2 linked regions of the Homo sapiens genome follow. The protein of the gene in region 2 purifies or fractionates together with the protein of the main gene of each other region. This does not show direct contact. Each region holds a gene or a part of one and is shown on either strand. Other genes may lie near its edges.

The links.
Region 1: the proteins of ZNF30 (region 2) and SPAST purify together in Homo sapiens (affinity purification with mass spectrometry; one large-scale study listed by BioGRID and IntAct). This does not show direct contact.

Annotation. Positions count from the first base shown.
Region 1 is NC_000002.12:32,069,740-32,073,560, reverse strand, and holds part of SPAST (spastin), read right to left. Parts: intron 1-3,821. UniProt on the Homo sapiens protein: ATP-dependent microtubule severing protein that specifically recognizes and cuts microtubules that are polyglutamylated.
Region 2 is NC_000019.10:34,925,285-34,929,205, reverse strand, and holds the start of ZNF30 (zinc finger protein 30), read right to left. Parts: upstream 2,304-3,921; 5' UTR 1,990-2,303; exon of another isoform or gene 1,487-1,989; intron 126-1,486; exon of another isoform or gene 107-125; intron 1-106. UniProt on the Homo sapiens protein: May be involved in transcriptional regulation.

The sequences.
Region 1 (3,821 bases), on a different chromosome or scaffold from region 2:
CTCAGGAGTTCAAGACCAGCCTGGGCAATACGGCAAGACCCTGTCTCTATCTTGCTTTAAAAACATTTTTAAAAAAAAGAGTGAAGAAAACTAATATAGAAGAGTAGACAATCTATACTTTGCCAGACATCAAAAACCCAACTACTACTGGGTGGAACAGAGAGAGTAAGACAGCGGAAAAGAGGCAGGAAGTGTTAGGGAACATCCTTCTTCAATAATTCAATATCCAGCCAGGTGCAGTGGCTCACGCCTGTAATCCTAACACTTTGAGGGGCCAACACAGGCAGATCACTTGAGGCCAGGAGTTCGAGACCAACCTGGCCAACACAGCGAAACGCCATCACTACTAAAAAAATAAAATGATTCAATATCCATTTACTAACTATCCTTAATTGTCATCAGGACAACTAACAGTAATATGGGGAATCCAGTTTAATAGGGTTTAACTGTATTCAACATGAGGAAAAATACAACAACAAACCAGCTAAAAACAGAACAAGGGATAAAGTCCTTAACAGTGGCTGCTTTTTTGTGTCTTTGGTGCAGATGCCAGTAAATAATCTTGAGAAAAAATGTGAAATGTTTATTGCATATGTAATCAAAAGCAATGTTATCTTTTGGAAAAGTATGGTATCATCTGAATGTCCATTTATCAGATTTATTCCTTAGTTTAATCAGAGAAACTTCAAAGTAGAATCATTAGGCCCAAAGAAAGCAAGTCTGAAATTAATCCTTTCAAAGTGGTAGGTATAGGTTTTCAGCAGTGTAAGAAAATTACCAAATCTGACACTTCTGATTTCTACCCTCCATCCTCATCTTCTGAAAACAGATATGGACAGCTATTTTATACGTGAGTTTTAAATAAAGTACAATATTGAATTATATAGAATTATGAAATATGATAATTTTCATTAACTTTTTATAAACCGGTAAGCAAAAAATAAAACTCTAAGACCCCCAACTGACTCATGGACCCTCCCCTTGCCAAAGGCATTCCAAAGTTAACCTAAAAAACTAGTTCAGGCCATAATGAGAAGTGGGGGTTGGACATGACTCATATACCCTCTTCCCTTTGGAATTCAGGGACAACTGATCAGCATTAACATTAAAACAGAGATATTAAGATGTTTTGTAGCAATAAGACGCCAAATTCCCAGCCTGACTCTAGTACAGCATCACGTCAGATAGCAGGCCATGAAAGAAATTGAAGTATTTTGAGGCCGGGCACAGTGGCTCACGCCTGTAATCCCAGCACTTTGGGAGGCCGAGGCGGGTGAATCACGAGGTCAAGAGATCGAGACCATCCTGGCCAACATGGTGAAATCCCGTCTCTACTAAAAATACAAAAAAAATAGCTGGGCATGGTGGCCAGCGCCTGTAGTCCCAGCTACTCAGGAGGCTGAGGCAGGAGAACGGCGTGAACACAGGAGGCGGAGCTTGCAGTGAGCCGAGATCATGCCACTGCACTCCAGCCTGGGCAACAGAGCGAGACTCTGTCTCAAAAAATAAATAAATAAATAAAACAAATTGAAGTATTTTACCCTAAATTATATTTCTTTGACATATTCTGAAATGGCCCTGCAAAGCTTTCTCTTGTGGGGAAAATTTACGTTCTGTAGAGAATCCTTTCCCTTTCCAAGTCTTTTACCTGAACCAGGAGAAAATTAACTTAAGAGTCTGCCACCTTTTAAAGTCTCATAAGAAACATTTACAATGTATTCTCTCTGAAGCCTGCTACCTGGAGGCTTCATCTGTACAATAAAAACCTTGGTAGCTACAACCTATTATTTTAAACCAGACACTCCCTTCTATGGATTCCAGGACTTTAGATAAGCTCTTTTGACCAATTGCCAATCAGAAAATCTTTGAATCTGCCTACGACCTGGAAGCCTCCCCAACTTCTAGTTTTCCTGCCTTTCCAGATGGAACCAATGTACATCTTACATGTTTAACTGACGTCTTATGTCTCCCTAAAGTGTATAAAATCAAGCTATAGCCTGACCACCTTGGACAGATGTTCTTAGTATCTACTGGGGCTGTGTCATGGGCCACTGGTCACTCATATTTGGCTCAGAATAAATCTCTTCAAATATTTTACAGAGTTTGACTCTTTTCATTGACGAAGTTATTTTAAATACACACATGCACATATACACAGCTTAAAACTATGAACAGAAAAATATTTTACTTAGACAATTTCTGTCTTCAATGCCTGACCCTTTAGCCCTTTAAAACTATGAATAGAAAAAATTTTATTTAGACAATTTCTGTCTTCGATGCCTGATCCTTTAGCCCTAGAATATCCTGAGAAACTTGATCTCTCATTCATATAACATACTAGGCCTTTTCTGTTTAGTCCTATGTACTTGAGAAATCAAACGTCACCTAGAGAACCTCCACCATTGTGTTACCCAGGAGATTTCCGGCTTGTCTACCCACAGGAGCCATGCAGAACATGATATGTTCTAGTAAATCCAAAGAACCATTATTACAACCTTCTCTTTTCCTCCAAATATTCCAAGGAGCTCATTACCAGCATTACAACATAAAAACCTGCAGTATAAAGTAAAAAGTACAATATTTTGAGTCCATTCACTTAAATTCTATTTTTGTTTCTGCTATGAGTCTACTCTTTGAACTTCAGCTTCTCCTTATATAAAATGGCTATCACAGGTTTTCAGTCTTCCAAGAAAGTTCAACAATTAAAATATTTACCAACTTAGTCAACAGGGCAAGATCACCATCTCTACAAAAAATTAAAAAATCAGCCAAGCATGGTGGTATATGTCTGTAGACCCAGCTACTAGGGAGGCTGAGGTGGGTGGATCGATTGAGCCTGCGAGGCTGAAGCTTCAATGAGCTAAGATGGTGTCATTGCACTCCAGCCTGAACAACAGACCAAGGCCCTGTCTCAAAATGTGTATGTACATATATACGTATGTACACATATTTGTTAATCACATAACTAATGTTTTAACACATCTCACTGGAGAGGAAATAAATATTTCTCAAATATCTAAAATGCAGAGCTGTACAAATTAACTGGCCTCCAATTAATATTTGCTTTAATAAATAGACTTCACATATCCTCTCATTAAGTCAACAGAATTTGCTGTGCTATTCCTCTTTTGAAATAGTTTGGTTTCAGATAAATTAAGGCCTTTATGAAAATTCAGTGTCAAATTTGAGTATGGGTTGGGTGCAGTGGGTCATACCTGTAATCCCAGCACTTTGGGAGGCTGAGGCAGGCGGATCACTTCAGGTCAGGAGTTCGAGATCAGCCTGACCAACATGGTGAAACCCTGTCTCTCCTAAAAATACAAAAATATTAGCCAGGCATAGTGGTGCACGCCTGTAGTACCAGCTACTCGGGAGACTGAGGCAGGAGAATCGCTTGAACCCGGGAGGTGGAGGTTACAGTGAACCGAGATTGCGCCACTGCACTCCAGCGTGGGTGACAGAGCAAGACTCCATTACAAAAAAAAAAAAAAATTTTTTTTTTTTTTAGTATGCCATAAGAATAAAATTCAGAATAAACATAGTCACCATATAAAACACATTTACACGAGATTTCATTAAAATGAGATTTAATTTGGCATTTAACATTTCAAGGTACCAAATATTTCAATTAACACTACTACAGTTTGATGCCATTTCACTGAATCAAATAAATTGGTTTTCAGTTAAATTAGAAGATAAGTAGGCCAGGCGCAGTGGCTCACACCTGTAATCCCAACACTTTGGGAGGCCAAGGTGGGCGGATCACGAGGACAGGAGATCGAGACCGTACTGGCTAACACGGTGAAACCCCGTCTCTACTA
Region 2 (3,921 bases):
ATTCAAGTGATTCTCCTGCCTCTGCCTCCCTCCCGAGTAGCTAGGACTACAGGCGCATAGTCACGCCCAGCTAAGTTTTGTATTTTTAGTAGAGACGGAATTTCACCATGTTGGCCAGGATGGTCTCCATCTCCTGACTTCGTGATCCGCCCGCCTCAGCCTCCCAAAGTGCTGGGATTACAGGCGTGAGCCACCGCGCGCAGCCGAGTTAGCTCTTACTATGGTAGCTCCCTCTTATCCACAGGGGGGAGATACACTCTAAGATCCTCAGTAGATGTCTGACGGAACCCCATATATACTATGTTTTTTCTTATACATACACACCTATGATTAAGTTTAATTTATAAATTAGGCACCATAAGAGATTTTTATTTTTCTGTTTGTTTGTTTGTTTGAGACAGGGTCTCACTCTGTTGCCCAGGCTGGAGTGCAGTGGTGTGATCTTGGCTCACTGCAACCTCCACCTCCTGGGAGCCTCCCAAGTAGCTGGGATTACAGGTGCCCACCACCACGCCTGGCTAATTTTTGTATTTTTACTAGAGACAGGGTTTCACCATGTTGGCCAGGCTGGTCTCGAACTCCTGACCTCAATTGATCCACCCATCTCAGTATCCCAAAGTGCTGGGATTACAGGCGTGAGCCACCGCACCCGGCCACCATAATTGAGTAATAGCAATAACTAATAATAAAATAGAACAACTATAATAGCATACTGTAATAAAAGTTATGTGAACATGGCCCCTCTCTCTCAAAATATCTTATTGTACCAAAATCACCTATTTTCAGATCATGGTTGACTGAGGGTAACAAAGTGAAGAAAGTGAAACTGCCGATTAAGGGGGCACTACTGCATTGGAGTTATTACGTAAACATTATACATCCTTTATTTCATTTTAATTAAACACTTGTTTCCACTTAATTTAATTTATGTATCTATCTATCTATCTATCTATATATATATATATATATATATATATATATATATTTTTTTTTTTTTAGAGAAGGGATCTCGCTCTGTCGCCCAGGCTGGATTGCGGTGGTGCCATCTCCACTCACTGCAACCTCCGCCGCCTCCCAGCTTCAAGCACTTCTCCCACCTCCGCCTCTCAAGTAGCTGTGACTACAAGCGCACGCCACCATGCCTGGCTAATTTTTATATTTTTAGTAGAGACGGGGTTTCACCATGTTGCCATGTTGGTGGTCTCGAACTCCTGAGCTCAGGCAATCCACCCGCCTCAGCTTCCCAAAGTGCTGGGATTACAGGCATGAGCCATGGCACCCGACCTGTTTCCACTTTTTACTTAAAACGTAAGTTTCTCTGGCATGCTTTCTTTTAATTCTAACTAAAAAATTAAGAGCAACTCTTCTTTAAAAACAAACAAATAAAAAACCAACAGAAAAGATTCTCTGACATTTCAATTTCCTCTGTCCCCTAGCAGCTAGAGAGAGAGAGCTACTGCTGTGGGATAATGCAAAATTGAAGAACCTTAAGAAAAAGCTGGGTCCTATTTCTGTGCAATATGGAGATTGATGGAAATGTTTACAGCTGTCATCTTGCTCTCCTTTCTTACATAATTTTGTCATTAGTTAAGTAATCTGCACAACAGATCCTTTGAAGTCCTTTTCCCTGCACTGATAATTTTCAGATGACATTGCTCTCATCTTTAAAAGGTGTAAATACTTTATACAGTTTTTTCCAAACAAGAAGAGGCTTCCTGGCAATCCCATTTCTTCCCGCTGCATGCAAAAGGTATCATAACTATCGTTTCCTTTTTAAACTGAGAGTTGAAGAGTCTTTTGCTCCTTTACATAAATCAATTACAGTGATTTTATCCAAAATAGTAACAAATATTAATAGCTCAGGTTCGCATGGAGGCCATGCACCCAGTCTTCGCGGATGCACACCGGCCCCGGCCGACGCACCCTCCCTGCCCTGCCGCTCCCGCACTCGCCGGCCCGGGATCCTCGCCCGGTCCACCCAACGCTCACGCATGTCTCAGTCCGGGTTCCGCGCCGACACAGGTCTGCAGAGCTCCCGGTGCTGTGTTCGTTTGCAGAAATTCAAGTTGCCCGGCGGGGCTGCTCCAACCTCGGAGCTGGGCGCTGACTTCTCCCTCGATGAACTCCAAAGCTCGCTGCCGGGTCAACGACCACAATGAACTGGCGAGGAGGCAGAGATTGAGGTCGTTCCAGTGGCCGCTGAGAAATGTAGTTTCAGGCTACATTGGCCGGATAGCTGCAGCCTCTGGGAAATGCAGTCCTGAGCCGTCACACCGCCGAGCATGCCCGGCGCAGTCCACAAGGCCGCCCACCGGCGCCCGGAGACTTCTGGGCGCTCCCGTCCGGCTGAGAATGCGCAGGCGCAGGCGCTCGAGTTGCTGGGAGCCATAGACCTCGAAGCTGGGGCGTCTGACACCTGAGGCCCGAAGTAGGTGGCCAGCTTCTTAGAGGGCCAACCCAGGGCATTAACACACCAGGTCAGAAAAAGCAAAAACAAAAACAAACAAAAAATGATAATCTATACCAAAATATGTTATTACTTTAACACAAAAATATGAAAACTAGGTGTTTGAAATTATCTTTCCGTACTGTTTGCTTTTCGCTACAGAAATGCTATTATTTAACAGAATATTAATAGGATTAATAGTGGCAATTAGACTAATCACGTGTGAGAAAAATATATTTCTGTCCTCTGATACAGGAATTTTAAGTTTCTATTAAATATTTAAATTTTGTGGGTTCTATCTAAGATGCTAAATGTAAGACCTTTTAAAAGGAGAATGTAAATAAGGCTAATCAAACAGATATTAACTATATGTAATAGGCATTTATCTTTCTGTCCCATCATACGTTTAGGAGATATTTACTCTTTCTGGTTCCTTTTCCAGTAACACCTCTCTGTATTAGCTGCCTGTAGCCTTTATGGCATTCTTCTTTTGGTTTATGTAATGCTAAAACTGAATACAGGCAAACGTGAAATTCACCTTGACTGTCAGCTCCGCTTTTTGTTTGTTTTGTTTTTGTTTTGTTTTGAGACAGGGTCTCCCTCTGTCGCTCAGACTGGAATGCAGTGGCGCTATCTCGGCTTACTGTAACCTCTGCCTCCCAGGTTCAAGTGATTCTCCCACCTCGGCCTCCAGAGTAGCTGAGACTACAGGGGCGCGCCACTACACCTGGCTAATTTTTGTATATTTTTTGTAGAAATGGGGTTTTGCCATCTTGCCCAGGCTAGTCTCGAACTCCTGGGCTCAAGCGATCCACCCGCCTCAGCCTCCCAAAGTGCTGGGATGACAGGGTGAGCCACCGCGGCCAGCCGAGCTCTGTTCTTATTAAGCCCACATTACAGTGATTCCTGGAGTCAGTCCAGGGTGATGACATTGATAAGGAGGTGGGGAAGGGGAGTGCTGGGGAGGGAAGGGCGGGGTCCCTTTAAATGATATGGAAGGGGGAAAGGGAGGTGCTGGGTACAGGAGGGTGTGGTCCCTGGCTAGGGCTCCACCCCTGGCCCTGTGCCAACTGACCTAGGTGAGGGCAGGCATTTTTGTTTTCCTGCCCAAATGTTGCGTTTCCCAAGACCACCCTGGCCTGCCACGCCCCCATCCTGTTCCCGCCCCCATCCTGTCCCTATAAATACTCTGAGACCCTAGCAAGCAGACACACAAGCCGCTGGACATCCAGAGGAACATGTTGGCGGAAGAAGACATGACAGACGCTGGCACGCGGGCAGGCCACCCACCAGAAGGACGCGGAGTTTGGCTGGGGCAGTCCAAGGAGAGCCGGTGCTGCGGAGCAGCCCGATTCCAGGGGAAAACCATTTCCCTTCTGGCTCCCCCAACTGTTGAGAGCTACTTCCACTCAAAACCCTGCAGTCATCCTCCAAGCCCATGTGTGATCTGATTCTTCTGGTACACCAAGACAGGA